Linked DNA regions of Homo sapiens. The protein of the gene in region 1 interacts with the protein of each later gene in a pairwise test. Each region holds a gene or a part of one and is shown on either strand. Other genes may lie near its edges. The genes, in order: MLLT11, TCF7 and LEF1.

What was found.
Region 2: the proteins of MLLT11 (region 1) and TCF7 interact in a two-hybrid assay, tested with the Homo sapiens proteins (one study listed by IntAct).
Region 3: the proteins of MLLT11 (region 1) and LEF1 interact in a two-hybrid assay, tested with the Homo sapiens proteins (one study listed by IntAct).

The regions. Positions count from the first base shown.
Region 1 is NC_000001.11:151,061,596-151,071,143, reverse strand, and holds the end of MLLT11 (protein AF1q), read right to left. Parts: intron 3,926-9,548; 5' UTR 3,920-3,925; coding exon 3,647-3,919; 3' UTR 1,600-3,646; downstream 1-1,599. UniProt on the Homo sapiens protein: Cofactor for the transcription factor TCF7. Involved in regulation of lymphoid development by driving multipotent hematopoietic progenitor cells towards a T cell fate.
Region 2 is NC_000005.10:134,108,826-134,119,308, forward strand, and holds the start of TCF7 (transcription factor 7), read left to right. Parts: upstream 1-5,855; 5' UTR 5,856-6,081; coding exon 6,082-6,330; intron 6,331-6,495; coding exon 6,496-6,562; intron 6,563-6,787; exon of another isoform or gene 6,788-7,083; coding exon 7,084-7,208; coding exon of another isoform or gene 7,209-7,261; intron 7,262-10,483. UniProt on the Homo sapiens protein: Transcriptional activator involved in T-cell lymphocyte differentiation. Necessary for the survival of CD4(+) CD8(+) immature thymocytes. Isoforms lacking the N-terminal CTNNB1 binding domain cannot fulfill this role.
Region 3 is NC_000004.12:108,157,297-108,167,196, reverse strand, and holds part of LEF1 (lymphoid enhancer-binding factor 1), read left to right. Parts: intron 1-257; exon of another isoform or gene 258-539; intron 540-895; exon of another isoform or gene 896-916; coding exon of another isoform or gene 917-925; intron 926-2,033; coding exon 2,034-2,100; intron 2,101-3,495; coding exon 3,496-3,629; intron 3,630-9,900. UniProt on the Homo sapiens protein: Transcription factor that binds DNA in a sequence-specific manner. Participates in the Wnt signaling pathway. Activates transcription of target genes in the presence of CTNNB1 and EP300.

The DNA.
Region 1 (9,548 bases):
CTCCTTCCAGTCCCCTCCCCTTCCTCCCGACAGCATCCCCTTCCTCCCCGTCCCCCTCCCGCCGCTGCCCCCGCTTCAGTGACGGGGAGCCGCGAGGTCTGCACCCAGAAGTCCGAGGCTGGGCTGGGAAGCGGTGTGACTTCTCACGGCACTTTCCTTTCCAGCCCTGACGCCCCCCGGAGTCCACACATCTCTTCTTTCCTCCTCACCTCCTCGTCCGGGACGCTGCCGGCCACGCTTCCACGGAGCCCGCCAGTTTAGTCCCGTTTCCTTCTCTAGTTAAGACTCCCTGTCAAGGACGGTTACTTTTTGCCCTTTTCATGTGTGCATGTTTTGGGGGCCTTTAACCCCCCCTCGTGGAGAAACAGAGGCAACAAAATGGCGGACCCGGAAATGAAGGCGCCGCGAGTAAGATTTCTGGCGGAGGAATCTGTGAAGGGAAAATGATCAGAAAACTCATGCTCCCATTCTAACAGAAAGATGATGCACCCCCGAGGTTCATCGCCTTTCTGCTGAGGCACTTCTGAGGTGGAAAAGTGCGTCACCGAGGCATGCTAGGCAGGACTATTTAACGGGGCGGAGGACTGCTGGTTACGTATCTTGCGCGTCTGAATAGTTCCAGCAGGGGACGGATCCTAGGTCTGGTGTTGGCGCCAAGAACCTGGCGAACTGCTGAGGGAGACTCGGAGCGTGCGTCAGTCATGCAGATTGCGTCTTAACTCTTGGCTGCTTCTTCGGGGTCCGGGGCGGCCAGGTTTAGTTTGACAGGAAAGCCTCGTTTCCTTATCCCAACCTCGGCTGCAGCTGTTTGGGACGTTCCTGGCTTTGTGCATTGGGTTCTGGTGCCTGATGGACACATTTTTCCAGTTACAGGCCGAATGTAAGGACCCCAGAGCCAAGCTGTCAGTGAGAACAGTGAAACAAATAACTGAGTCATTTCTTTTCTTTCTTTCTTTTTTTTTTTTGAGACGGAGTCTCGCTCTGTCGCCCAGGCTGGAGTGCAGTGGCTCGATCTCGGCTCGCTGCATGCTCCGTCTCCCGGGCTCACGCCATTCTCCTGCCTCAGCCTCCGGAGTAGCTGGGACTGCAGGCGCCCGCCACCACGCCCGGAGATTTTTTTGTATTTTTAGTGGAGACGGGGTTTCACCGTGTTAGCTAGGATGGTCTCGATCTCCTGACATCGTGATCCACCCGCCTCGGCCTCCCAAAGTGCTGGGATTACAGGCGTGACCCACCGCGCGCGGCCTTTTTTTTTTGAGACGGAGTCTCGCTTCGTCCGTCGCCCAGGCTGAAGTGCAGTGGCGTGACCTCGGTTCGCTGCAACCTCTGCCTCCCGGGTTCAAGTGATTGTCCTGCCTCAGCCTCCCCAGCAGCTGGGATTACAGGCGTCCGCCACCACGCTGGGCTAATTTTTGTATTTTTAGTAGAGATGGGGTTTTATTTTACCATGTTGGCCAGGCTGGTCTCGAACTCCTGACCTCAAGTGATTGGCCCGCCTCGGCCTCCCGAAGTGCTGGGATTACAGGCGTGAGCCACCGCGCCCGGCCTGAGTCATTTCTTTTTGGAGGCCTGCAAGAGGATGGAGCATGAGTTTGCAAATCCATTTAGTCACTTTATTTACCAAACAGTTGATCCCTGTCTCCACCCACCAATTGCCATGGCTGAAGGACTCTGAAGGGGCCCTTCAAAACTCAGTAAAAATAGAAAAGGACGCACTACTTATCCTTCCTGGCCCCATTCTTCGTTAGACTGGGACCGTCTTTAGATGTGGGCTTTTCATGGCCTAGAGGGAGGATTTGTCTTTTTTTCTCCCACCTGGGGACTTCTCTAGATCATCCTTATTTAGGGTATAGTGTCATCCTTATTTATAGTACACTGCCCAATTCTGTCCTATCCATATTGGTATTTACAGTTTCTCTTTTGAGAGTTGGAGTCTTGTCTCATTCCCGTTTACATTCTGTTTGGCTCAGTGCTTTCCTATAGCAGGCACACAAAAACCAGAAGTTAAGCAGATAACATATTTGAGTGAATTCGTTTATCTTCTTAGGCACCTAGGAGAATTATTACCTGAAATATAATGTTGGTAGTCAGTGGGCAAGCAGAAGAGTGGTTGTACCTGTCTCCCTAACTACTTTTCTAATTTTAAGTTGATTTTGCCCTTTCATTATCTGTTCAATGCGAAGTTCACCATCTAATGTCTAAATGCTACTCAAATCATTCTTCCTCTAAGTTGAATATTATTATAGAAAGATAAAATGAGGCCGGGCTCAGTGGCTCACGCCTGTAATCTCAGCACTTTGAGAGGCTAAGGCGGGCAGATCACCTGAGGTCAGGAGTTAGAGACCAGCCTGGCCAACATGGTGAAACCCCGTCTCTATGAAAAATACAAAAATTAACCAGGCCTGGTGGCAGGCGCCTGTAATCCCAGCTACCTGGGAGCCTGAGGTGGGAGGATCCCTTGACCCTGGTGGGTGGAGGTTGCAGTGAGCGGTGATCCCCGCCACTGCACTCCAGCCTGGGTGACAGAGTGGGACCCTGTCTCAAAAATAAAAAAGAAAAAAAAGATGTATAAGCTAAGTGTGAAAGCAAGGCTAATTTCTCAGATTTCTGTGGCTTTTCTTGTGAAGAGAGAAAATTAGACTCCAGTCCTGGGATTGAATGTCTTTATTAAATAAACGAGTAAATGGTAGCACAAATCACCATCAATATTTTTGGAAGGATTGGGGACAAGATGTCGAGTCAGAATATAATTGTTCATTTCAGGGTCTCAATGTAGCTGAAGAACTGTGCCCACTGATCAGTATTACGTATTGCAAATGCAGGAGGTAAGGCTAAAATAGGACTTATGCCGTTCAGAAGATTGAATTGAAACCTTAAAAACTATCATAATAGTAGGAATGCATGTTAAGATTTGATAACTTTCTTTAGCTAGAGTTTTCAACCCACAGTTAGGAGCAAAGTTGTAAAGTGAGTAGGTGTGAAGAAGGGACACTCTTTTGAGAAAAGAAATTAGCTACTTCTAAAATGATTCAATTATTTTCCCTATTTTCATTTTCCATAATATTTCCTCCTGTTTTATACCTCTAACTACCCTCCTGATTTCTCTGAGGAAAAAAAAGAATATAAGAGCAGGATCAAAAAAAAGCAAGAGACTTATCACTTTAGCCTTTTAGAAATACTGTTTCGTAGCAGATAACCTCAAATTAAAACTTCCGAGGTTTTCATCACCCCTTGAAGAAATATTTGTGTTTACTGCCCTGGAGCAGGAAATTAGGAAGGTTTAAGGAATCTCTGAAGCTGATTATAATAGAGTCAAAAATCAGTCTTCCATTTTGCACTACTATACTACTCTCAGGTGTCCCCAGTCAGGCCTAGTTTCTGGAGTTAATATTTGGGGGGGAAAGGAGGAATCCCTGTGACCCAGTACTCCATTGCTTGAACCATTTACTTTGTGACTTGAGGGCTTTTGAGAGAAATGGAGTAGACAGATAGATAAATAAATACATAGAACTCAACTCTGGCAGATTCATCAGCACCACCAACACAGTAGGGAGAGAACAAGATTAAAATGGGAAAGGAGTGGAAAGGAAGGGGCTTGAGAGGGAAGACAATGAGGGCAAGGTGATGGGAGAGAGAAGTCTTGGCCTTAGAGCAAGTCCAGTTCGAAGGAGTGGATGCTGGCAATGGGAGCTCTCCAGAAGTTGAAGGTGCTGTACTCAAGGAGGCCATCACCTTCAGGGTTTTTCTCCTGGTCTGCTGCAGTTGCTTGCCCGATCATTTTGCCAACGCTGCTGTCTTTGACCTTGTAGGTGGCTGTATCTGACAGACCCAGGCCTTCCAGCTCCGACAGATCCAGTTCTGGGATGGGCATCCTCCAGAAAAGAAAGGAACTGTACTGGCTACTCACAGGGTCCCTCATAGCTTCCTAGAAAGAAACCACTTGTCAGTCTTCATGCTACAGCAACTTCTTTGTGGCCCATGGCCTTTCCTTGCTTAGATACTCCACATACTGGTAAAAAGGAATTTCTTTTTTTTTTTTTTTTCTATTAAAGAAAGAAAATTGTATATCCTCCAATCCCACCAGTAAAAAGGAATTTGGGGAGGAAAAAAAAGAAACTCACCATCCCCAATTGCCTCTGGAGAGAATCCAAGTTCCCTTGGACAAGCTTCAGAAACCCTTTATTATGAATTTCTACTTTTTTTTTTTTTTTCTCTCAATGAGACGGAGTCTTGCTCTGTCGCCCAGGCTGGAGTGCAGTGGCACGATCTTGGCTCACTGCAAGCTCCACCTCCTGGGCTCACACCATTCTCCTGCCTCAGCCTCCCGAGTATCTGGGACTACAGGTGCCCACCACCACGCCCGGCCAATGTTTTGTATTTTTTAGTAGAGACGGGGTTTCACCATGTTAGCCAGGATGGTCTCGATCTCCTGACCTCGTGATCTGCCTGCTTCGGCCTCCCAAAGTGCTGGGATTACAGGTGTGAGCCACCGCGCCCGGCCGAATTTCTACTATTTTCTAAACTTCCCATCTTGGAATGACTTATTTACCATCTATTGCATCAAATTGATCTTGGGTCTGATTTTCAAGGCCTTCCAAAATCTAGCCCATTCTTCCCAGCAGTGGTATATCCTCTGTTACAGTTATGCTCATTCCTGTCTTGCTTAACTCTCTCCATTCTCCACCTTAAAATACTTTCCGCATTTCAGCCAGGTGTGGTGGCTCATGCCTGTGATCTCAGAAGTTTGGGAGGCAGAGTGGGTGGATCACTTGAGGCCAGGAGTTTGAGACCAGCCTGTCCAACATGGGGAAACCCTGCCTCTACTAAAAATACAAAATGTTAGCCAGGCATGGTGGTTTGTGCCTGTGGTCCCAGCTACTAGGGAGGCTGAGGCACGAGAATTGCTGGAATCCAGCAGGGTGAGGTTGCAGTGAGCCTTCCAACCTGGGCAACAGAGCAAGATTCTGTCTTAAAAAAAAGACTTTCCACATTTCAGGACTCCATTCAAGAGCTCAGTGGCTCACACCTGTATTCCCAGCACTTTGGGAGGCTAAGGCAGGCGGATGACTTGAGACTAGGAGTTCCAGACCTGCCTGGGCAACATGGCAAAACTCCGTCTACAAAAAATACAAAAAATTAGCTGGGCCTGGTGGTGCACGCCTGTAGTCCCAGCTACTTGGGAGGCTGAGTGGGAGAATCACTTGAGCCTAGGAAGCAGAGGTTCCAGTGGGCTGAGATTGTGCCGCTGCACTCCAGCCTGGGGAATAGAGTGAGACCCTGTCTCAAAAAACAAAAAGACAAAACAAAACAAACAAAAAACTCCAAGTCTATAGAGGAACCCCCGTTCCCCTAGCCCAAACTCCTATTATACTTAAAAATACTTGACTTCCTCCTGACTTTGGTTTAATAGCTCATGGTATGTGTGAAAAGACCTTCCGTGACTTTTCTGCTTTCTATTTTCCTTCTTGCCTTCTAAATCCTACTATAAACTCACCTCTTGCAGATGACTTCCTTAAACTTTTACTCAGCTTCATCTACTCTATTTCCTCCAGCATCTCCCCCAACACCCTGTAGAGTTTTACCTAACTCCATCAGTTTGGGATTACAGATCACTGTTAATGTATTTTATGTATAGGGATGGCCTTATTGCCTTCTGAATGGGGAAAAGCAAAGGGCAGTAGAGAGCAAGCTAGAATCTGAGAAAAACAAAAAGCTCTTTGACAAATTGACCCCTTGTCTTAAAACCAGAGTATGAATAAAAAACTGCTCAAATAGTCCCTGAGGGTTTGGCAGAGCTATCTTGCAATTTAAAAAGCTAAAGCAAATGTTATGAAATATTAACTCAGAAGGCCTAAAACCTCTATGTCATTGACCCAGAGACATGTACACAGGGTACCAAATACATTCAAGAAACACATGCATGCAAGCATATGTGGCATTAAAATCAAGTCAAGAACATAAAATAAGACTACACAGAAAATTGAAGTTAAAGTGCTATTCACTAATGTAAATAGTAATGAAATTTTTGATTTAATATAGTATGGATTTAATTATCAAATACTCCAAATTTTGCAAAAGACCCCTTTTTTGGCTAGCTTCCCCTTCCCCTCCACAAATGCTCTCCACCCCTACTTCATCTATCTTTACATCTATCATTATCTTAAACGGTATCATTTACTTAAAGGGTTGACAGTGCCTTGTACCACAATATATATTCAATAAATGCTTCCCATTATCCTTCATTTTAAATTATCCAGGTATTTTAGGCAAAGGCAATATCTAATTATCACTCTGTTCTTAGAGATACATGATTAGCAAATATGTAGATTAGAAAGATACACTCTCTCGGAGCCACACAGACACGCCCAAACATCCTTTGTCCAGACCCTTTGTGGGCATCCAAGGCCTACTCAACAGGGCCTTGCTGTGTCATGCTGCCACCATGGGGAAAGGGGGAGGACAAGGTGGTGGTAGAGGGGAGCAGAAGCTCTCTGGCATCTCACCATGCGTGCCTCAGTCAGAGCTTGGATTTTCCTATTAGCATTCCCTCACCAGTTCCACTGAATTGCAAATAATCATTCTTTTCCAGAATCTGTCCCCATACCTAGGAGTTTCCCCAAGGGTAAAGACCAATCTACTTTCTCTGTACACAAGTGGTGGGCTTTGTACACAAAGCCATTCAAGGCTGCTGATTAACTTTCCCTCACTATTTAATTAATACCTTGCCATTCCCTTATATTAGCCCACAGGTAAGCCTTAACAATCCATTTCTCTCTAGCCTACCTCTCCTTCAGAACAAAACCTAGGTGCTAAAAGAACTTTCCTAGCCAGGTGCAGTGGCTTACGCCTATAATCCCAGCACTTTGGGAGGCCGAGGCAGGCAGATCAGGAGGTGAGGAGTTCAAGACCAGCCCAACCAACATGGTGAAATCCTGTCTCTATTAAAAATACAAAATTAGCCAGGCGAGGTGGCGCATGCCTGTAATCCCAGTTATTTGGGAGGCTGAGGCAGGAAAATTGCTTGAACCTGGGAGGTGGAGGTTGCAGTGAGCCGAGATCTCGCCATTGCACTCCAGCCTGGGCAACAAGAGCGAAACTCCATCTCAAAAAAAGTAATAATAAATAAATAAATAAATAACTTTCCTATGCTGTAACAGGGATCTCTTTTCTCTGATCCCAGTGCTCGAGTATACTGATGATAATGAGAGCAAATGGATTGGAAATCCATTTGGATTTAAAGTAAAGTTCAGATTGGAAGAAGGTATTTTAACAGAATCAGATACTCTTCCATGCGTTAATGGATCTATCACTTTCTCTACTCATTCTACCCAAGCCCTGCCTGATATTTTAGGACTATTAGAGCTGCCTACAGCCTCCACCCTGCTACTTACTAGCCAAGGGTCAAGAAGCATTAGTTGTGGTCGGGCGTGGTGGCTTACGCCTGTAATCCCAGCACTTTGGGAGGCCGAGGCGGGTGGATCACGAGGTCAGGAGATCGAGACCATCCTGGCTAACACGGTGAAACCCCGTCTCTACTAAAAGTACAAATATTAAGCCGGGCGCGGTGGTGGGCGCCTGTAGTCCCAGCTACTTGGGAGGCTGAGGCAGGAGAATGGCGCGAACCTGGGAGGCGGAGCTTGCGGTGAGCTGAGATAGCGCCACTGCACTCCAGCCTGGGCGAAAGAGCAAGACTCCGTCTCAATAATAATAATAATAAATAAATAAAAATTAAAAAAAGAAGCATTAGTTGAAATGTTCCCAAAGGAGCAGAAAGAACATTCTATCACCTCCAAAAACAGAACCCCAAGTTTCAAAAGGCCTTTCTCCAACACACCCTATTGGGTCTCACCAGGCCAGAGACTCCTAAATAATGGCCTTAAATAGGTTCCAAAATGCTCCAGTATAATGTGAAATGACTGTACTAAGGCAGAAAAAGAAAGTGTTAATCTAGAACACAGTGATGTGTGAGAGTGTGGGGGCTTCAGGAATGGTGAGTGGGTAGGCTAGGATGTTTTTAATGTTGAAAGTGAATTCTGAGTTGTTCTTTTTCTTAGTTTAAGTTCCAAAATAAACCCTGGGAACTGAGCATTACTCAGCAGAGAAGCTGCTTAGAAGGAGGGTGATGCCGGGATTGCAGCAGGGTCGGGGAGCATGTTGGAAAGGTGAGGTCATCATCCTATGATACTCAACTCTGATAATCTCCATAGTACTTTGCAGAGACGTGTGCAGAAAGAGAGCTACAAAAAATGGTTGTATCCATTAACCAACCACCCACTGCTTAAATCTGGGACTATAGAGATTCTAAGAAGCATACCTAGGAGTCAATACTGTTATGGACTTGTGGCTACAGGGATTCTTACTGTTACCAGTTATTTTCACAGCTAGCTGGGTTCTTTTCTCTATCCTACCTGACAAGTCTTCTCCAGAATGAGCTTAGTATAATGCAGGCCACATTATAGGCTCTTTAAAAAATAGAATCATGGGGCCAGGCGCGGTGGCACACGCCTGTAATCTCAGCACTTTGGGAGGCCGAGGCAGGTGGATCACAAGGTCAGGAATTCGAGACCAGCCTGGCCAAGATAGTGAAACCCCGTCTTTACTAAAAATACAAAAATTAGCCAGGTGTGGTGGCAGGCGCCTATAATCCCAGCTACTCGGGAGGCTGAGGCAGGAGAATCGCTTGAACTGGGGAGGTGGAGGTTGCAGTGAGCCAAGATTGCACCACTGCACTCCAGCCTGGGCAACAGAGCGAGACTCCATCTTAAAAAAAAAAAAAAAATAGAATCATGGGGGGAAAAAATCATAGAATTTTAAAACTAGAAGACATCTTAGAAATTAATGACTTGGGAAGACTTCCAGCCAGTTTGTATAGAATCCAGATCTCATAATTCCCAATCTGATCCCTTTTTGTGTTGTACATGGATAGTTGCCAACAGCTTTATATAACCCTATACCAGTATTCCCAAAACTTAAAAGAATTTTTAGTTGCTGAAGAATAGATTTTCCGTGGTTTAGGTGATTGTTCCTGTAATTGTGATCTGAATGGGGAAAAGCAAAGGGCAGTAGAGCAAGCTAGAATCTGAGAAAAAAAAAAAAGCTCTTCGACAAACTGACTCCTTTTCTTACAACCAGAGTATGTATAAAAAACTGCTCAAACAGTCCCTGAGTGTTTGGTAGAGCTATCTTGCAATTTAAAAAGCTAAAGCAAATTTTATGAAATATTAACTCAAAAGGCCTAAAATCTCTATGTCATTGACCCAGAGACATGTACACAGGGTACCAAATACATTCAAGAAAGACATGCATGCAAACATACGTGGCATTAAAATCAAGTCAAGAACATAAAGTAATACTACACAGAAAATTGAAGTTAAAATGCTATTCACTAATGTAAGTAGTAATGACATTTTTGATTTAATATAGTATGGATTTAATTATCAAATACTCCAAATTTCGCAAAAGATCCTTTTTTGGCTAGCTTCCCCTTCCCCTCCACAAATGCTCTCCAGCCCTACTTCATCTATCTTTACATCTTTCATTATCTTAAA
Region 2 (10,483 bases), on another chromosome or scaffold:
CTATGGGGTCAAAGTCCACCATCACCCAGAGTGTGGCTTACTGCCCCACCCGGAAAAGGCCACATCCTCTTTAATCCCTCTTCTCTCCTAGGCTGACCTAGGACCTCCTTCCTCCAGGAAGCCCTCCCTAACTGCCATGTTGTGTGCCATGACATGCATAAAACAGCCAGGAGGGTTTCTGAACCCCTGGCTCCCAGAGCCTCTTTAGCGCCTGATGTCTTCCACAAGATGGTGAGTTGCCTGACGGCAGGTACGGGGCCTGCTAACTACTTCCTGGATTCTAAGTGATCACTGCTATGGATGATCGATCCATCCTTCCATTCAGCCATCCATCCAAAAACTTCTGAGCACCGCAGGTTGCCAGTTCTGTGCCAGGCCCTAGGGATAAGCAACAAAGCCCTGTATAGCCCTGTCTTAAAAAGCGATATTGAATAGTTCTTTCTCAATAAGACATTCCTCTCTCAGTGTGTCTGAGGCTGTCTCCCCAGGCCACATAGGATTTAGTGCAGGCGTATTCCTCTGTGAAGCTGCAGGTGACCCCCACATGAACACCAGGCCTTGGTGTGCTCCACCTTCTGCTGCATTTGTGACGCCGCTTGTCTCTCACCTCTGGTCTCAAGGCCATAAGCTCTTCATGGCATCCTTAGAACTTAGAGACACCTGGCCAGGTGCGGTGGCTCACGCTTGTAATCCCAGCACTTTGGGAGGCCAAGGTGGTTGAATCAGCTGAGGTCAGGAGTTCGAGACCAGCATGGCCAACATGGTGAAACCCCATCTCTACTAAAAATACAAAAATTAGCCGAGCGTGGTGGCAGGTGCCTGTAATCCCAGCTACTGGGTAGGCTGAGGTAGGAGAATTGCTTGAACCTGGGAGGCAGAGGTTGCAGTGAGCCGAGATCGTGCCACTGCCCTCCAGCCTAGGCAATAAAAGCAAGGCTCCATCTCAAAAAAAAAAAAAAAAAAAAAAGAACTTAGAGGCATCTGCAGCTTCCAGGTGAATTTGGGCCCAAAGAAGGCAGAGGACTGACTTGACTTCACTCGGCAAGCCAGTGTTGGGTCAGGGACTAGGACACAGGCTGGCACTCCCGACCCCTTGGACAACTGGTACACCCGGCAGCCTAGGACCTGGCACACAGTGGCCACTCCACGTTTGCCTTCGCTGTCGCCACCTTGGTGTCTCTGACTCTAGACTCCTTCCTGGGGAAATTCAAGCCTAATGTTTCCTTCTGGTGAGGGAACCCCAAACCCATTCATCAGGAACAATGGCTGGCACAATGTGGGAAAAATAACCCATGGGAATAGTCCTAACAAGCCCTGTGAAGCTCTGGGGCAGCTCTTCTCATAATTTGCCCATCACCTCTCAAGCCAATTTGGCCAAGTTTCCTTAGGATTTCATCAGGAAATATGAACTGCCAATTTTGTTATTAAGTCTTTATTTTAATAACAATTCTTGGTTATTGTATGAAGTCCGAGGGATGGAGCAGGAGGGGAGAACCCACAGAAGAGTCCTTCCTTCCTTATGAAGAAAGAACTGACCCCAAAGCCCCCTTGCTTCATTTTAAGGGCAGCTGCCTGGTACCTGATGCAGAGTAGCAGCATCCCAGCAATTGTGTGTGCTTGCCTTTCTGTAGGTCACAACCACCTACATGCACACACATGGACACACACGCCCCAACAAACAGTGAAACTACACAGAGTTTCCAGAAAGCAAACCGTGTTTCTAGTAACAAACCACAGTCTACCTCTAGGACCTGTAACCGGGTTTTGCCCTGAGAGGATGCTCCATGGGAAGTGCTCCTGCCGAGAGCCAGCAGCCCAGCCTCCCGGCGGCTTTGGGCAAGCCCCAACAGGATGCCAGGCGGGCTGGTGAGCAGGAAGAGACGCCGCTCACAACCTCTCCTTGCTGTAATTTACTAAATCCATCTGGGGCTCCTTTGAGACGTTTTCTGGAAATGCCACATTTCAAGGGTCTCCCTGTCAGAAAAGGTCAGAGTTCACGTGGGCCTTTCATGTTAAAGGAGCTTGAAAGAAAAGGAAAGGAAATGTATATTTTCAGCTCTAGCCATGATTAAGTGGGCTCAGGCCATGAGAACATTCAGATGATTTACATGACGTTACATGAAGAGCCAATTAGCCTAACAACTTCCGAAAAATATCTCGTTCAAGAGCACCCATTAGACACTTGGAATGCACCAGGCTGCTGTTCTAAGCTCTTCACTAGGGTACAGTGGTTCATCTCGACTGCACTCCAACAGAGCAGGGCAGGCCTGCGTATGACATCCATTTAACCTATGGGGAGACTGAGGCTCAGAGAGGGTCAGCAATCTGCCTGGGGTCCCACAGCTAGTAAGTGGCACGGCAGAGATGGAAACTTAAGACTGCCCAAATCTAAAGCTGGAGCTCATCTGCTCCAACAACCCTCAAGCCTTGGGAGTCCTGACTTAGTCCTGTTTCCAGCATCTGACTAGTGCAAGCTCATTTGCGTGAAGATGAAGCCTTATTAAATCACCAGCCCTGGCCTGGTCTGGATGAATCCAGAAGACTCTGGGGCCTCCTTGCAGCTGGTCCTGGTCCTGAAACTCCCCGGTCACCTCCAGGGGGGCAACCACAGCAGATTGCACTCACTACCCTGTGGAAGAACCCCAGTGTCTATCATCTGTGTATGTGATCTGAGCCAATTCCCAGAACAGGTGGCCTCGGGTGGGCTCAGCAGAGAGATGGTACACACTGAGATCTGTCTGGTTCAAGGGAGAGATTCTAGGCCCTCTCTGCCAGCAAAGGTCTTGGGCCCCCTATACAGACCACCAAGATGATTCCCTAATCCTGTTGATGGCCCCCTTCATGCAACATGAGCCACCCAGAAAGTCAGGGCTCCATATTAGTGACAGCTTATTTGTCAGCATTTGTCTGCCAAGACCACAAGGCAAATAAGGACTCCCTCTGGAATTTTATAATGGAACACTAGAGTGTGATAGTTAGGATGTGGGCTCAGGAGTCAGACTGCCTGGGTTTCAAATTCTGACACCTTCATTTTCAAGCTGTGAGAACTTAGGTGACTTCATCTCTCTGAGCTTCAGTTTCCTCATTAGTCAAATGGGGATACGAGTCCCTATGTCACAGGGTTGGTGTGATGATTAAATGAGATAATGTGTGTGAAGCTCTTGACAGGATGCCTGGCACATAGTAATCACTCAGTATATGAGGTTGGTCGTTGTGTAGACGATGGTGAAGGAATCAGTGCTGACTAGACCAGGGACTCCTGTGGGGCCGCACCAACTTCTGGGGAACAAATCAGAGCTCTTGTTCCTTTCCAGCTTTCCAAACCCTCCTAAGCCATCCAGGCCCACATGAAATCTACCTCCTTCAGGAAGCCACCCTGACTACTCTAGTCCACATTGATCTCACCATATCTGAGCTCTTTCTGTCCATTACCTGTATAGACTACTCTAGCACCTAAATCGGCTCTAATAACTCTTCAGCTTCTCAAAGCAGCCAATGGCTCCTGGAAGGCAGACACCTCTAGCCCTTCCCTCTCCACAGCCCAAGCCAGGGCTAGGTACACAGTAGATGATCCCTTAGCAAGCCTTCAGACTGATTTCAGTGTGGCTGTGGATGCCTGTGACTCAGCCCTTCTCTCCCTCACGCCTCCTCACAGTCCCACTCTCCCTACTCACCCACCCTCTCCTCTGGTTCCAGCCAGCAGGGTGGGGAGTTGGAGCTATGACCCCATAGGACAGTTGTTCCCAGACTATAAAATGTCCAAAGAAACTTGAGGGTGGGGGAGTTAACAGATGGGGAAAAAAATGTTCCTTATGTTCTTTCACCAAATAAAGACATGAAAAAAAACACTTGTCCCACCACCATTTTAGTAAAGAAAGGATGTTTTCACACCAATAAAGCAGTAAGGGCATAATCCTTGATTAAAGGCTAATACGAAGCTGGAAAGTTTTAACCTTATTGAGAAAACAAAACAAAACAAAAAGAACCTCACTGTTGTTGTGACTTTTCTCCTTTCTCCAAGGACTGGAGAACACTTCAGCCTCCACTGATCTGTGTCGGTGGAACTCATGGGTCTGGGGACAGCTATTCTGGAGGACGTTCCTGCTGAACCAGGGTTCCCTACAAACACATGAGGACCCCTAAAGCCATTGGGTTGGGCAGATCCGGATTCCCTTTCAGCTGTCCCAGAGGAGGCTCACCCTATGCCAGACCCTACCTATAACCTCAGGAGTTGAGGTGGCGGAGGCTCTGAACTCCCGTCCCTGTACCTCTCCCCTCCGGGCAGGGCCGAGCCCCCCCTTCCCCGCCAATCCGGAGCAGATGAGGCGAGACTAAGCGGCAAGCCCACCCTGGGAAGAGGCTGGGGAGACCTAATGGGCAGGGTCCCCCTCATCTCCATCACCAAGCTGAGCACTCGTGCCCATGCCACCCCCCAGCCCCAGCCTGGGGAAAGGAGGAAAAGTGGGCACCCTAGCCCGGAGGTGGCGGGGGAGGGGGGTGTGGGGGCTGGTGTCCGAGACACCCGGCTGGGCGGGCACAGATAGGATCTGAACACAGGGAAGCATGGCCTAGCTCTTTGATCCACAGCCAGCCACGCTGGGCCTGGACCCGGAGGGAGGCACGGCTGTCTTCCGGCCCGGCTTTGCACCGCTGCCAGGGGTCCTGTGGGGCCCTCAGAGGGAGAGGCGTCCAATACCCGGCCCTCCCCCAAATACCCTCTATCCCAACTGCTCTCAGAAGAGGCGTGAGCGTCTACAGTGAACCCAGCACAGAAACCTGCTAGGGGAGCTGCTGTTGACTGCATCGCGATCCAAAGGACCGGCGTCTTTTGTAGATGCAGGGGCTGAGCCAGGCCAAGCGCGCCGTGGAGGCCCGCGTGGACGCAGACCCGGGTGCCATACAGATGCGCTGGAATCCAGGCACTTTCCCGCGCTCCGCAAATCTAGATGTTTCAGCCTGGATCGAGCGAGGGTTAGAGGGTTAGTCAGGCCAGGGTCAACTTCAGAGTCATGGGCTCCCTAAATGCGACTTCTAGGGTTGAGTTGCTGTGGACGAGCGACCCATGTCGGAATCCCGCGCCCACGTGGCTGCCCAAAGTTCCGAGTCTCCGGGCTGCAGGTTCTAGTCACGGAACCGAGTTGGGAGAGTCATAGGGGCTGGGACTTGGAGGATCGGCTGAGGTCCGGTGCTCTTGGCTGTGTTCGCGGCTCGGAGCCGTCGCCTGACTGAGGGGCCCGTCACAGATGTGTGATGTATAAGCTCTGCACGCAACAGGAGCTCAATAAATGTGCGAAGGGGGGTATACTTATGTTCGCACTGTATGCAGGCGGCCTAGAAGGAAGTCCCTGATTGGCACAGGGATGGAGGATGGGGCAAGAGCCGCAACAGCGCCGCGGAGTTCCAACGCTGCCGGTTCCCTGGGGTACGAGCACAGCCTCAAGCAGCCTCAAGCCCTAGGAAGCCCCCAGTTCAAAGCACAGGGCGCATTGGAGCCTGGGCACGATACAGTTCACACCACGGCTGCGATGGTAAGCCACGCCCAAGTCCCAAGGGCCTAGGGGACCCCCGCCCTCCACAGCCGGAGGAGAAACCTGGGCGCAGAAAGCAGGGGGAATATCTGGTTGTAGGTGAGTAAGCGGGGTCAGGAGTTCCCGTTAGAGTCTCTGCGTTTCGGGAGAAGGGTGATCATTCCCAGGCTTGTCCGACGTCTCTCTCAGGGTGCGCTCCGGAAGAGCGAGCCCTTTAAGGCTATGCCGAGTGGGCGCGTCCCGGCCTCTCCCGGGAGAGGAGAGGCGGGGCGGACCTGTGTCCCGCCCCCGGCCCGGCCCGCCCCCAGTGCCCGCCCCGCCCCCGGCACTCGGCCGGCGGCGCCTTTGATGTTCCGACCCGCCAGCTCGCGGAGCCGCTCTGCCCCGCGCCCTAGCCCGCGCCTGCAGCCCGCCCAGGCGGAGTCAGCCCGCGCTCCGCCCGCCGCGATCCGAGCTCGGAGGTTCGGACTCCGGGCTCGCCGCCCCCCGGGCCGGCTCCGCGCCCCGCACTCCCGGCGCCCAGCGCCCCGCGCCCCGGCGGGCGGAGCGCACCATGCCGCAGCTGGACTCCGGCGGGGGCGGCGCGGGCGGCGGCGACGACCTCGGCGCGCCGGACGAGCTGCTGGCCTTCCAGGATGAAGGCGAGGAGCAGGACGACAAGAGCCGCGACAGCGCCGCCGGTCCCGAGCGCGACCTGGCCGAGCTCAAGTCGTCGCTCGTGAACGAGTCCGAGGGCGCGGCCGGCGGCGCAGGGATCCCGGGGGTCCCGGGGGCCGGCGCCGGGGCCCGCGGCGAGGCCGAGGTGAGCCCCCGCCGGCGCCGGCTCCTCCCCCGCGGTCGCCGCGCCGCGCCGCCCCAGTTGCGCGCGGCCCTCGGGGTCTCCAGCGCGCAGAGCGTCCCTGCCCCGGCGTCGGCCCCGACCCCCGCGGTCCCACCGCCCCTCACTCCCCTCCGGTTCTCCCTCCAGGCTCTCGGGCGGGAACACGCTGCGCAGAGACTCTTCCCGGACAAACTTCCAGAGCCCCTGGAGGACGGTGAGTTTCTGCCCGGCCCGGCTTCCCTTCGTCGCGCTCAGGCCCTGGCCTCGGTGGGACGGGGACGCCAAGGACCGCGGGGAGCCGGGTGCCTCCCCCACCGCAGCTCAGGAGGCGGCAGAACCCAGGGGTGGAGAGTGGGGGGCGGGCTTCCCGGGCGCCGCCGGGTCGAGTCACTTCCGGTGCCCTGACCTTTATAGGAGTAAACAGACCCCCGCCATCCCCGCCTCCCCTCCTGCCCAGGTGACTGACTAATCCGCCGCCTTCAGGAGACAGAATTGGCCAAGGTTTCTTGGTTGGAGGGCGGGGGGTGGGAGGTCAAGTAGGGGCCACCTCGGGGAGGCCTGCCCTCCAGGTCCTTCCCCTAAAACTTGGCACTGCCGATACTCCCAGCCCGTTCCTTCCCAAGTCAGGAACTTGCAGGGGACCCCTTGGCAATTCTTTTTCTCTCAAGAGCAGACAGCCTTCAGTCCCAGCCGCTGCCAGGGCTGGTGTGTCTGACCCAGCTGTGGTTTTTCCAGGCCTGAAGGCCCCGGAGTGCACCAGCGGCATGTACAAAGAGACCGTCTACTCCGCCTTCAATCTGCTCATGCATTACCCACCCCCCTCGGGAGCAGGGCAGCACCCCCAGCCGCAGCCCCCGCTGGTAAGTGGACCCCGCAGCCAGTGCCGCCCTGTGCTTGCAGCCTCCTTGACCAGGTAGGTGAGGCACCGGCAAGAGACTTCTGCCTGGAACAAAATAGACGAGACTCCTGTGCTGGTCTTTTCTCCCATACACACCCGGTGGGATCTGAACCAAAAGGAGAACTTTGCTGAAGGAAGGAGGGGCCGCCCTGGGGCACCCCCCTGCCCTCTGCCTCTTGGCTTTTGTCTTCCCAGCTTGCTCATAAGCAGGTGCAGGCTCTGTCCTGGTGCTGGGTGATGCCAGGGTGGGGTCTTCTTAGAGAACTTTTGAGCCGAGACCACCCTTGCTCCTCGCTGCTCTGATCTGAGCTCAGAGCTTTGCAATTAACTTTCTAACTAGCCCAGGAAACCCTGAGCCTCCTTGGCGCTTGGAGGAATGGGCAGGAAAGCTGATCTGTTCAGGTCCCCTGGTTGTGCAGGAGAAACGTGCTGTGTTCGGTCGGCTGTGTCCTGACGGGCGTGAGTGTACCGTTGCCAAAGAAGGACCCTGAACACCATGTGTGGAAAGTGGGTTCTTAGGAAACTGGCTTGGTCTCAGACATACCAGGAAGGGTTGGCAAAGGTGCTACAAATCAGTGATGTTGAGAAGGGACCAGTTTAATTAATTCGTGAATTAAATATTTTTAAGTCCCAGTGCTTTGAAAAGATTTCATGATCTTTACAAACCATGCCCATTGGTACAGATGACCTAAAGTGTGAAGAGCCTATTCTGAGTGTTTTGGAGCAGTACAGCTGCGCTTTTAAAGAAATTCCTATTCGTGTTTCACACTCTCCTCAGTTGGTCCAAGTTGGGGTGAAGGTACGTGGAAGGTTTGGAGGACTGTGGTAAGTGAGTGTTGGGTGTGAATGTAAGCCCAGTGCAGGTGGGGCTGGCAGGCTGGAGGCTCGCATGGCTACAGTGGGGTCACCAGAGGGAGGAGAGTTAAGTGCTAGGCTATTTCAGACCAGGAGTGAAGAGGGTGGTTCTGAGAGCTGCTGCATGCCAAGCCAGTGGGAATGAGAAGACATATAGGCTTCTTTCCAGAAGCCTAGGCTGGAAAGCCTATTCTATGGCTAGCTCTAGAAATGAGCTCCTTGCCCTTTGGGCCCTTATCTGTAAAATGAGTATGTTTTTCGAGTAGTCTCTGTATCCGACTTTCTGCTCTGGGGTGGCTTGGTATATGAGGTGGTTCACTTCCTTCCAAGTCTGTGAGATGGGGGGTGTGCCCCCCAGCATTCCCCCGCTGATGTAGTGACTACATCCAGAGAACTCACCCTGTGTGAGCCCATGCTTAACAAAGATGCGTTTTGGATCCCTACAAGATGTAAATAAACCCTTAGATTTGGGACTAGGTTGACATAACCCACCAGTGCCAAACTTCCAACAGGTGTGCCACTTGCATAGGGGCTGGGGTCACCGTGGAACCATGATTAGACAAAAGGCCTAGGCCCAAGGCTCTACTCCAGCCTCCCGGGGCTCCACAGCAGCACAGGGAAAAGGCTTCCTTTCGGAGGTCATCTCATGGTGTGGGCAAGTGCTGGGAGAGTATCTGGAGCAGGGAGGGCTTCGTTCTGCTGTCAGGGTATGGGTGATGGGACCATTTGGTGTCCTTTGGGCCACATGGGTCAAGAGTAGGCTCTAACAGGACAGTGGAGGAGGCACACCACCACTGGCCTGGGTCATTTATTTTTCACCTTTCAGTCTTTCTCAAGCTACAGCAGATACATTTCTATGTATCGCACCTGCTCCTATAGGTACAAATCCCCTTGCCCTCCTCCCCGCGCAGCCACAGTCTCCACTGTCTGGCTTCTGGCCACACAGGAGGAGGAAAAGGACGGGCTGTGACACTGGCTCTCTGTGCCCTGGCCTCAGCTGCTCTGTGGGGCTGCAGAAAAGGACAGAGGCAGAGGTGTAAGTTGGAGTGACACTCAGTGAGGAAGCTGTATGTGAATGTAGGAGAACCTCTTTTAAGCAAACCTGCCAGTTATAAACACATAGCAAGTCAGAGCATTTGCTTGCATTACCTGAAGACGTGTGGGCATTGAAAATGTGGTTGGGTTTTACCAAGCAAAGTGAATCCACCCCCACATTTTAGAAGCATATTTATTATTGGATTCAAGGTTCATGTGTCTGGAACCAGGAATGATCTTCTTTTCTTGGGTCAGGAGCCCCTTGCAAGGGCCCTGAGGAAAAACTGCCTTTGGAAGATTTTTCCAAAGCTGGTCACTTTCCCAAGCCCATCTTTAAAGGACAGACAGCTTGCTGCTCAGGCCCTGCCACAGGCCTTAGATCCAGGCCCCCTTGCCCTTTGCCCGGCCCTCTCTGAGGGCACCTATGTGGTCAACACTTATGCTGAGAGGCTTGAGGCCAGTCATTGCACCTCCCTCAAGAGCAGGGAAAGCCTATACCAGGGACCTGCTCTGCCCATGTGTGGGTAGGATGCCCATGTGGCTACTGTGTTAGAGACCTCAAAACAGGCCAGCTCGAACCTTGCCCGGAGCAATAGGCTGAATGACCACCCCACAGCCAACTGCCACGGGACACATTTTTTTTTTTCTTCCAAAAAGGTTCCTTCTTTTTGGTAGTTGGCTTCTTTTAAGCTTGTTTGAGGAAGAAAAAATTAGGTCAAAGTTTATTCCATGAACACTGTCAGGCACCTGATTGATGTAGGCTTGCAGGCAGTTACTGGCCTAGACCAGTAACCAGGGTTTTTTTGTTTTGTTTTGTGTTTGTGTTTGTGTTTTTTTAGAGACAAGGTCTCACTCTGTTGCCCAGGCTGGAGTGCAGTGGTGTGATCTTGGCTCACTGCAGCCTCAAACTCCTGGGCTCAAGCCATCCTCCCACCTCAGCCTTCTGAGTAGCTGGGACTACAGGTATGCACTACAATGCCCGGCTAAGTTTGTTTTTGTTTCTGTAGCAATGGGTCTCACTGTGTTGCCTGGACTTTGGTTTGGTTTTCTCTGCTCTGCTCTGAGACCTGAAAGTAGGTGGAGGTGGTGAGTGGGGAGATAGTGAGCTGATCTTAGGCTGTACTTTGGGGGGATTCTGGGATGGGTAAGGCATCATTCCTTAGGCAAACTCAGGCTCAAACTCAGTGTAGTCAGTCTTGTCATATCCAAAATTGATATGAGGCTGCATTGAGCTGTGGCTTCTTCTATGAGCTCTACTTGGAGTCTGTAGCTTAGACAGATGCCGAGCCTTTTGCCATTTTGATGAAATATCCAGAATAGACACATCCATAGAGACAGAAAGAGGAT
Region 3 (9,900 bases), on another chromosome or scaffold:
CTGAATAACGCTACTGATAAATTCTTCCGTGGGACGGAAAACAAAGTGCACACGCTATCTCTTGGTAGATGTCTCTGCAAAAGTGCGTTAAACCACCAAAGGCTTAGGTGGAGACGAGCAGAGCCACAGGCGGGAGGAAGGGGAGGCGGGCGTGGGCTGGGGCAGGCGGGGCCGTCCCTACCACCGGTGAGCCGGGCCGCGGGGAGCAGGCCGGCCGATGGGGCGCGCACCCGGGCTGCGGGGGCGGTGCGGGGTTCAGTCCCTGCGGCCCCAGCGCCTGGGCTAGCAGCTGGGAGCTGTGGGTGCGCCGAGCCGACCCACCGCAAGGGTACACCCTGGCTGTACCGCCCCCAACTCTAGTTTTCTCCAACCGCCATCACTTGGAAACAAACCCACAACTTTTATTTGGGGTTTGGGACCGGATCAGGCCTTAAATCTACGCAGAAGAAAGGCGGAGAAGCAGCGGAAGCCGGGCACTAGTCCTGCAGGGTGGAAGGCGCTTTATCGGGTCTTCTGGCCCGCTGCGGGCGATAGAGCTGGTAACCTGAGTAGAGTAAATAGAGACACGTGGGTGCTGGCTAGAGAAAGCGCGGAGCAGGGCCGCGCTGGAGGGCTGTTTGAAGCCTAGTCCAGAGCTGGTCTAGGGGGCGGATGGACCCTGATACCCGACACTCCACTGGTCACCCTTGTTCCACAACTGGGAAACCCTCTGGAGGAAATCCGGTAGAAAAGTCCTGACACCCGAATGATTTAACCAACGCCTTTTCCCTCCAAAGAAACTTGGAGGATATACCTTTTTTTCCTTAAATGGCATCTTTCTACCCCCAAAAAGAAAGTGTGTGGTTTTGAGGGCGGGGACATTTTGGGTTTTAAACAGCGCGTTTAAGAACACCTCAGATCTGCCTTCTCTATCCCAATGGCAGAGGTGAGTACGAATTTTGAAAGGCTGGGGGCCTGCGTTCAGAGAACAGAATGGTGTTCTTTACCCGTTGAATCCAGTTTGAGCGGGCTGGGGGCGGGGGTAGGGTGCACCTAACCCCGCGTAAAAGATTTGTGACTACTGTGTGCTGGGAAAAGGAGGTCAAAGGGAGGACACACGTCCAGAGAACCGAATAACATCCAAAACACAGGCTTTTTGCCAAACTCTCCTATTTGTAGAGCAGCCTCTCTTTCTACCCATTTTGCTAGTCCTGCCTTAGTCCATAAATAATTTTGCCACCCACTTCATATTCTCCACAATTTTCTGGTCCGGGTGAAGGACACTGCGTTCGAATCCGAGAGCACTCGGGTGTTAAGTGGGCATGAGGAGGCCTGAGGGTGAAGGAGTAATACCACTGATTTGCACGTGTTTGAGGCTGTCTGGGTGGATGGTGATTACCAAAACTGATATCAACTGGGCTACCTTTTAGATGTCTATAACCTGACTCTCTAATTTTCCTCCCTTTAACCACAGAATCGTTCTACTTTTGTAAGCCTGCACTCAGCCAGCCATAGTAGGTTATAAGCTCGAGTGGAGCTTCTGCTGTAACTGCGCTCAGGGCAGTTGCCTTAAGACCGCATCTGAGTGGTTGGCTTGTTTATGTTTAAATGCCATTTTCAGTTGCAAAATGATATTTCAGCCTTCTTTTAATCAGATCTGATTGAAGTGAACAGTGGTTGAAGAGGCTATCGAAACCATCAACCCCATTAACTCCTACTCCTGTAATATTAGGCATCCAAGGAGCCTTGATATGGTTTAATAAACAGCAGTCAGAACAGCATGTGGATCATTCCCAAATTTAACTATATTTTTATTGGTTTTGTTATTATTTATACGTTTTTGGTCCCGGGTGGATAATAATCACTCAAAAATACATGTTGACAAGAAAAGGATTATGCAGTACTAAACACTAGCGTATGTCTCTCAGAGTATAAAACAGAGTTGCCCCTAAACCTCTTCCTTTGAATTACCAGCGCACACACATTTGTACCATTATTGTCACAAACTCTAAGGTGATTTTCTTTCTTTTGGGTGTGGGGATTCATGATGTTAGGTGGCCAGACAAGCACAAACCTCTCAGGAGCCCTACCACGACAAGGCCAGAGAACACCCCGATGACGGTAAGACACCCATTCTACTTCTTCTGACTTTAGCAGATAAGGGGTGCAATTTGTATAAATAGGTGTGTTTTGTTACTTTTGAGTTCAAGAAACTGGGACTAGGTCAGACTATGCCCACTATTTTAATGGTAAAGAAAACGCAGGAAACTTATGGCTTACCTCTAATATATATTACATAATTTAAAAACTGTTTTTGAATGAGTTAGGGACCCTTGGATTTCAGGTGGGTTCCAGATTCTTTGGGAAGAGGGAATGTCTACAATGAGTTTTTCTCTTCCTCATCTTACCTTAAATCCTAATTAGCTTAGATCTTTAGTATTTTTAATATATTATTAAGAAGAACGACAGTATATATCGATTTATTTTCCAACCAGAATAGTTTTGAGTGGATTTTCACTTGCAAAATTGCTGTTTCTTGTTCCTTATTACAGTGAAAAGGCCGGCAGTAAATGAGCAGAGCAGAATCTAACTTGTAAAAATATAAAACTTATAATTAGGAATGTGCATATCAGAAATGATACCCTTTCTCCCTATTTCTGATTCTTGCTAAAAACTTTAAAATTACATACATATGTATTTAGACTTAAGGAGAATTCTTTGTGACTTTAAAAGAATCAAGTAACCTTAGGGATTTCTTGTCAGCCTATCTGTTTTCCATTAATTACTTAACAATTGGCCTAACTGAAATGAAGTGTTTTTACATACAATATGTCAACCAGGAGCAGGGAAGAGAATTATATATTAGGCTTCTTCCTCAGCTACAAGATAGTTACACAGATTAACAAGAAGAAATACACATATCGAACAGAAATTTTTTGGCAAAATGATCTAAGTGTAGCACATAAAATTAAGCCTCCCAGAGTTAATCCTTTATAAATTTAGATAGTTGCCTATATACTAGATAACAACTCTTTCAGTAGAATCTAGAAATTTTTCTAGAAATCTGCAAGCACAGGTAGAATCTTTGAGTTTGTCTACAAGGCAAAACATAATTTCAAGTGTATAAATCTCTGTGTTTGTGTGTAGCTAGATGGCCTAATATATTTATATTACATTTTTAAAGTTGTGTGTGTTCTGTATATTTTAGTCCAGTTTGTTAGTATTAGAACAAATTAAGTTAGATGGATAACACTTATTTTTGTAAAAACATCAGTCAGTAGTGGAAGAACTGTTTGAACTACATGTTTTTAAAACATCTGGTTTGCTGCTAAGCTATTTAAGAGAATAAATACTGTCAATCTAAAATAGAGCATAATAATCCAGTTACAGTATTTTGTAAACAAATCTTTTATGTAGGGTCTGATTTATCTTAGAACTATTAGATTTTCAGATGAAAAATACAGTAATATAAAAGGGAAGTCAGTGCATCATTGATTGTTCTTTGGATCTTCCCAGGAAAGCATCCAGATGGAGGCCTCTACAACAAGGGACCCTCCTACTCGAGTTATTCCGGGTACATAATGATGCCAAATATGAATAACGACCCATACATGTCAAATGGATCTCTTTCTCCACCCATCCCGAGAACAGTAAGTAACATGCTGATGTTGCAAATTATGTTCAGAAGTGCAAATTGATTTGTATTTTGGCAGAATGTTTATTTTTCCAAACTCATTGGTAATGCTTTCATTATATATAACTAGTCGTTGCTAAATAAGAGCTGTTATGAGGAATGGCCACCTTAAAACAGTGCTACCTTTGATGTCTTGCCTTTGAAATTTTAGCTTTTGGCTTATTGATTAAAATAAATATGTAACAGATCATAAGTTATAAAATCAAGTGAAGTTACATCAACAAATCCCTGATTTTATGAGTATTGTGCATTCTATGCTGATGAGAGGAAAAAATTGATTTACTTTTTCAGCTAAGTAAGGACTGTATAGCTTTTAATGCCCACAAGCTTTCTAGAATCAGAGCTACTTTAGCTCATTTGGAGCTGAATGTTTGTTATGTTACTTTGGCTTTTCAAATGGTGTCTTGTTTTATTGTATCGGCCAATGTTTCCTTAGGATCGGTTTGGCGGGGATGAGTTATTTTTGCTTTATTGTCAATTGTTGAGAAAGCATCACTCAAAGATAACCCTAATGAAAGTTGTTCCTTTTTTTTTTAATCTTGTGGTTTAGTTAACTTTTAAAATTCTAAAAATGCAGTGGTATTATAACTGCATTATGCAAATGCATAACATTATAAAGAATTTCAGGTTTATTTGATGATATTTCTCTTAGGAAGTGGAAACCTCATTTAAGTGAGAAAATACCTAAATGGTAACTTGTGTAGTATGTAGATGTAAAATGTGCTGGTGATGGAGTTCTCTCTTAGAATTAGCCCACCAGCGTTGGTGACGGACTTTTTACTGACCCATCAATATATTTACCTTCTCTCCAGCCCCACTCTCCCTTTATCACCTAACCCCCAATGAAAAACACATGTCTATGGGTCTCGGGGATTAGGGTTCCAGTCTCACTGACAGCCCTGGAGGTCAAATCTCAGATTGTAAAATGGAACCTATAGTGTTTGACTTACTTGCCCAGTGTTTCTACCAACTGAAAAAAATCAGTCACAAACATCTGGGAAGAGTAACGTTGTTAATACCTTAGTGAACAAAATCTGGGAGTGAGAAGATTCACTAGCAGAGAATAGTGGCTCAAAATCAACAGTTATCAACAAGAGTATTTGTGGTTATCATTACACATAATCTTCAGTTGTTGAAATGATACTTATATCAAATATGATCACTTTGAGCACTGCAATTTAGATGTTATTGTAATTATTTTCCAATAAATTGCTAAAGGATATTTGATCTCTCAGCTAAGGAATAAGCTTTTTCTAATTTTTATATAGTAGTTAAAGTGGAGATCTTGGGGTTCTAATCTTGAGGGAGATCTTGTGATGGTTGCTGTAAGAAATAGGTATTTCATATTTTATTTTAAGGCTTTTCAAGTATTTAATGATAAAGATGTCTGTGTGATGAGGATGAATCTCCTACTTAAAAAGTAATTTAAAAAAGCAAAAATAGTTTAATATTTAGAGGCCCCTCAAATAAATGCTTGAGTTTTAAAAGTTGTAGGAGACTTTAAATTTTTGAACAAAACATACAAATATATAGATATCTCTTTAATATTTGGGCAGGTTTTTTTGCTGTTTTTGGAGGGGGTGGAGAAGGGAAGGAGAATATGTTTTAGATAAGGAATATTTGAAGATTCCTGTTAAATCATTTTCAGAATAACAAATAATCTTTCCAAATCAAAGTAGTGTTGGTGACAATAGAAAATAGCCACAAAACAGCCTTACGTTTTTCAGCTGTGAGTATACAGCATTTGTGGAATTTATTTCTTAAAAAGATCAGCTACTTCTCCTTTCAAAATGGTAATTTTAAAAAATCAATATAATGAAAATTTATTGGTATTTATAAGCAATCCCTAAGAATATTGAAAATTAAGCTGATCTTCCTCTTTATGCCAGCATTCTGCCTTGTGTTTCCACAGTCTTTTCTCCCAATCTACCAGTATACTAGTCATTTTGAAATTTTGATAGAAAATATCTTTTGATAGAAGGTATTTATTGTTAGTGTATGTATTAAAATTTTGAGGTCAGTGAATCAAACAGTCATTCATTGTTTAGGAAAGATTTGTGGCCAGAATAAATGTTGGTCTGGGTAAAGTGTAGGAAAGAGGTGTGGTCAGGAAACAGTTACCTTACCCTGTTATCTGTTGCTTTGCTTTATTCTGTTAAATATTAGGATGTATTTATTTTAGGCATGTTTTCTTGAGATATTCTGCAGTTTGCACAATTCCAGAAGCTTTTCAGCTGTAACCACAAGACTATGTAAATTTTTTTTTTAGGGTCCAACCGAAGTGAGTTACAATCTTTGGTTTTTAATACCTAACAGCTGTTTTTAATGTGTCGGAGATCAAAAACACTAACCGGAAGACAGCCTCTCTTCTTCACCCCTAACCACACTTCTGCCTTCTTGCTCTTTAACTCTGTCCTTAGCAGGGCTGAGTGTTTGTGTCACTAACATCCACAGTGATAGATTTTCATCTAGGGTGTCAGGAGCATGGTGACCATTTGTGTTTGGGCTTAGGATGGGAGCATCCCCTTGGCATCCTGCTTCTTGAATTTCCATTACAAACAATTGCTTGTTTACTGCATCTGCTTCCCAAAAGTGTTAGGACTGGAAAAACACCTGGGGTGGGGGAGGGACCTGACCACTCCTTCCCTAAACAGTCTTCTGTTTGTATCTAACTGCAGACAATCCAGAGGATACCAGCTATGGCCAACTGGCATGCAGAGAAATGTTTCTGCTGGAATCTAATTATAAAAAGTGCATATGCTTTTGCTTATTTTTTAGACAAATGCTACTGTGTGTATCCTGGAACAGATTTTACCTATGACCAATATACAGTATTACCTGTTCAGGAGCACCACTTTCACCTACTCAGCTTTTTTTCTTCTCAAGGGGAATTTTAATTGGCAAATTACATCCTTCTAGAACTGGAATCCTTAGGGGTGTGAATGTGTCTATACCAGAAATCTTATGAATGGGTCTCTCACAGAATTTTAAATAAGAATTCTTAGTTCAGATAAATTGGGTCTAAGAAGAAAGCACCTATCATGACATATTTGGTGTCAGCGTGAGTTCTTAGGGCATAGTAAACTTTGGCTTGAGTTGGTCTTCTTCACAGAGAGTGAAGAGAAGATGCAGAAGCCTGTTAAATATTTTAGAGCCAGGACCCTGGAGAGTTTATTAAAAGCATACTCCCAAACCTTTCGTTCTCTGAACTTTATTTATGAAAATCCCTGTAGGCCAATGGTAAAGTATTAAAAGAAAAAAATAGTTCTTTACATCCCTAGTTTGGCTCTGGCAGTTGTGTGCCTGAACACCGTGTGAATGGTGAGCTTGGCCAGCTTTAATGTAGTGAAAGTTCCCACTGGCCTAATGCACTGTGGTTATTCATCTTAGGCGTCAATCTTCCATTTGTCCCGCATGCAACCCAAATGTTTAACACCTTAGAAAAGAAACATCTCATTTCTCTTCAGATGCTTGGGGAGGGAAAAGCAACACAGTGCAGGAAGCTGCAGCAAACGTTGCAGCTCAGTCACATCAAACCACAATAACACCTGGTCAGTGTAGCGCTGCAAACTTCATTGTTTTTGGTTCTTTGTGATCTTTCTAAGAGTCAATTTTTAGGTGGGAAAGGAAAGATATGGGTGTTCTCATTTCAGCTATCTTTTAAAATGTTTATTTTTTTAAAGTAGAAATTGCTATGAAAATGTTCCATGAGTTCTTTTCTAATTACCTTGTATAACTTAGTTCTGTTGTGACTTTTACCTTAAGGGAATCAACACTTTGGTTTCTATTAAACAGAATTATACCTATTATAACTTTGTCTTACCTACCCTGCATATTTGTACTTGCTTATAAACAGCTAAAATCTGATTTTGTCATTGTTCACATCTGGAATTAAGGAACTAAGTTGGACTTGTCTAATCAGTAAGCTTCTGAATGTACCACTGTACGTGACATTGTTGGATACCTTTGAAAATAATCACATAAATAATATTCAAGGATAGATGGAGACTAAGGCTTATATCTCATGCAAGATTTTTAAGGTAGAGTATCTTTTCACTTTATTGCAAGAAGCTATTGAATTTGACTTAACCTATAAATAATTTTCACTTTTCTATTTTAAGTTGTGCACTTTTTGAAGCTAAACACATTGAGTTTTCCCCTTCAAGTGGAGAATAAGTTTTAGAAAGTGTATTATTCTAACTCAAATGTATATATAGATGTCAGGAGAATGTGTGGGAAAATTCCTCAGAGCCCCCAAAGTTTCCTGTTTGATCCCTCCTTCATGGCATTGCTACAATTTGGGACAGGATCATAGTCAGAATAATTGGAAGCGCTTGCCATTCCCCCATCAAATACCTTATGGCCAGTTTGCTTATTTAAGTGTGCCAGGAAGCCATACTACATGTAACCCTTGCAGAGCTAATATTGCATTTACATGCCTGGTTCTTACTCAGATAGTTTTTTTGAAATGACCCTAGTAGTTTCTTCTTCATTGATAAAGACATGAGAACAACCCAAAAGATAGTCTTAAAAAAAAAAGACCACACACTAAAAAAAAGACCATTGAGCCAATCCGCAAAAATCTTGCTTTTGAAGTATTTTTTCCACTCCCATACAGGTCTTAGATTTGCTCTCATCAACCTCATTATTTTGATCGAGTCTTCCCTGTGGTCCGAGACCCTTATGTGATTTAACAGAGCAGAGGTAGGGTCTCACAAATGGGACTCTCTGGACTTGAATTTGTAGACTCACAAGCACTTGCTATAATATCAATTTTGTAGCGGATGAGTTTTTTTTTTTTAATGTTCTTTAGACAGAACCATTTGGGTTTATGTGATTGAATTTTTTTTTGAGCAATCAAAACACTTCATTTTTGACTCCTTTTGTTCCTCATTTATGTATCATAGACATGACTGGAATTTTATAAAGCTGATTTCCTTTTGATTTTGGTAAAAGACTTGGAATTTAAAGAGAAAACATGCCAGCACTGTCTGTAGCAAGCAGAAAAACATATATGTTTTATTCCCAGGTAAAAGTAGAGCTCAGCATTATGTAGGTGCTGCTGTCCTGGGACTAAAGGTTGCGCGCTCTCTCTCTCTCTCTCTTTTTTTAAGGGAATGTTCATTTAAAACTTGTCCTCTTTGAAGCTGTTGCTTAAGTGTTTGTGCTGAGCTGAGCCAATCTGTAGGAAGCTAATACTGTAGTAATCAAGACACTTAGTACTCTTCTGTGCTATCCTTACATGTCCTTACTTATTTAGAAAAGGCAGCCATTGGATTTTATTCAGATAATTTAAAAATTATACTTTAGGTTCATGATTACTTTTTAAATATTATGATCTTGAATTACCTGCCTAGGAACTGTGGACTCTGCTATAAACTCTTTTAGGGATATAAATCATCCAGTATCTCAGATAGAGAAGATGAAAGCCTTAAAATATCCTAGAGAACAACAACAAAGACTGGGGGTGGAGGTGGGGGGAGTTGGGAGTTAATCTGTACCAAAGTGAAGAGCGGGGAGTTGAGCAGAGGACTGGACAGGGAGCAGGAGGCATTGCTAACTCAGAAATTCTGATAATCTAGCTGGGACTATTTGCAGACTGTTAGCAGAGGCTGTGTAGAGGATTATAAAGTCTCTGTAAAAGAGTGCATTTGTATAATACCCACTGTAGCTAAACCTGTAAACCTGCTGCAATTATCCACTTGTTATCTCTAGATCACTTACAAAGCTCACTGAGCGATGGTACTCACATGCCTTCAATCTGTATAGGGAAAATTGCAAGGGCAGTGCAGAGCAAGCAAGAGTTTTGTTGCCAACCCCATTTTTCCATTTGTAGGAGAAATAGGACTAGCAGAGAAGGTTGCATCACAGAGTGTCTAGAAATACAGTTTATTTTTGCAGCTAGCTAGGGACAAGTAGAATCTTTAAAAAGCTGGATTTGTTGACCGTTGTGTCTACCTATGCTCACACATAACCCTATGTGGAACTTGATGACAGTTTTGCAGATGAAATTTTGATCTTCATCATAGTAATTTATTGTCATTGTTATGTTCACCTGTAAAAAGTTGCCTATTGCTCGAGGCAGGTGGATCACCTGAGGTCAGGAGTTTGAGACCAGCCTGACCAACATGGTGAAACCCCATCTCTACTAAAAAATACAAAAATTAGCTGGGCTTGGTGGCAGGTGCCAAGCTACTCAGGAGGCTGAGGCAGGAGAATCTCTTGAA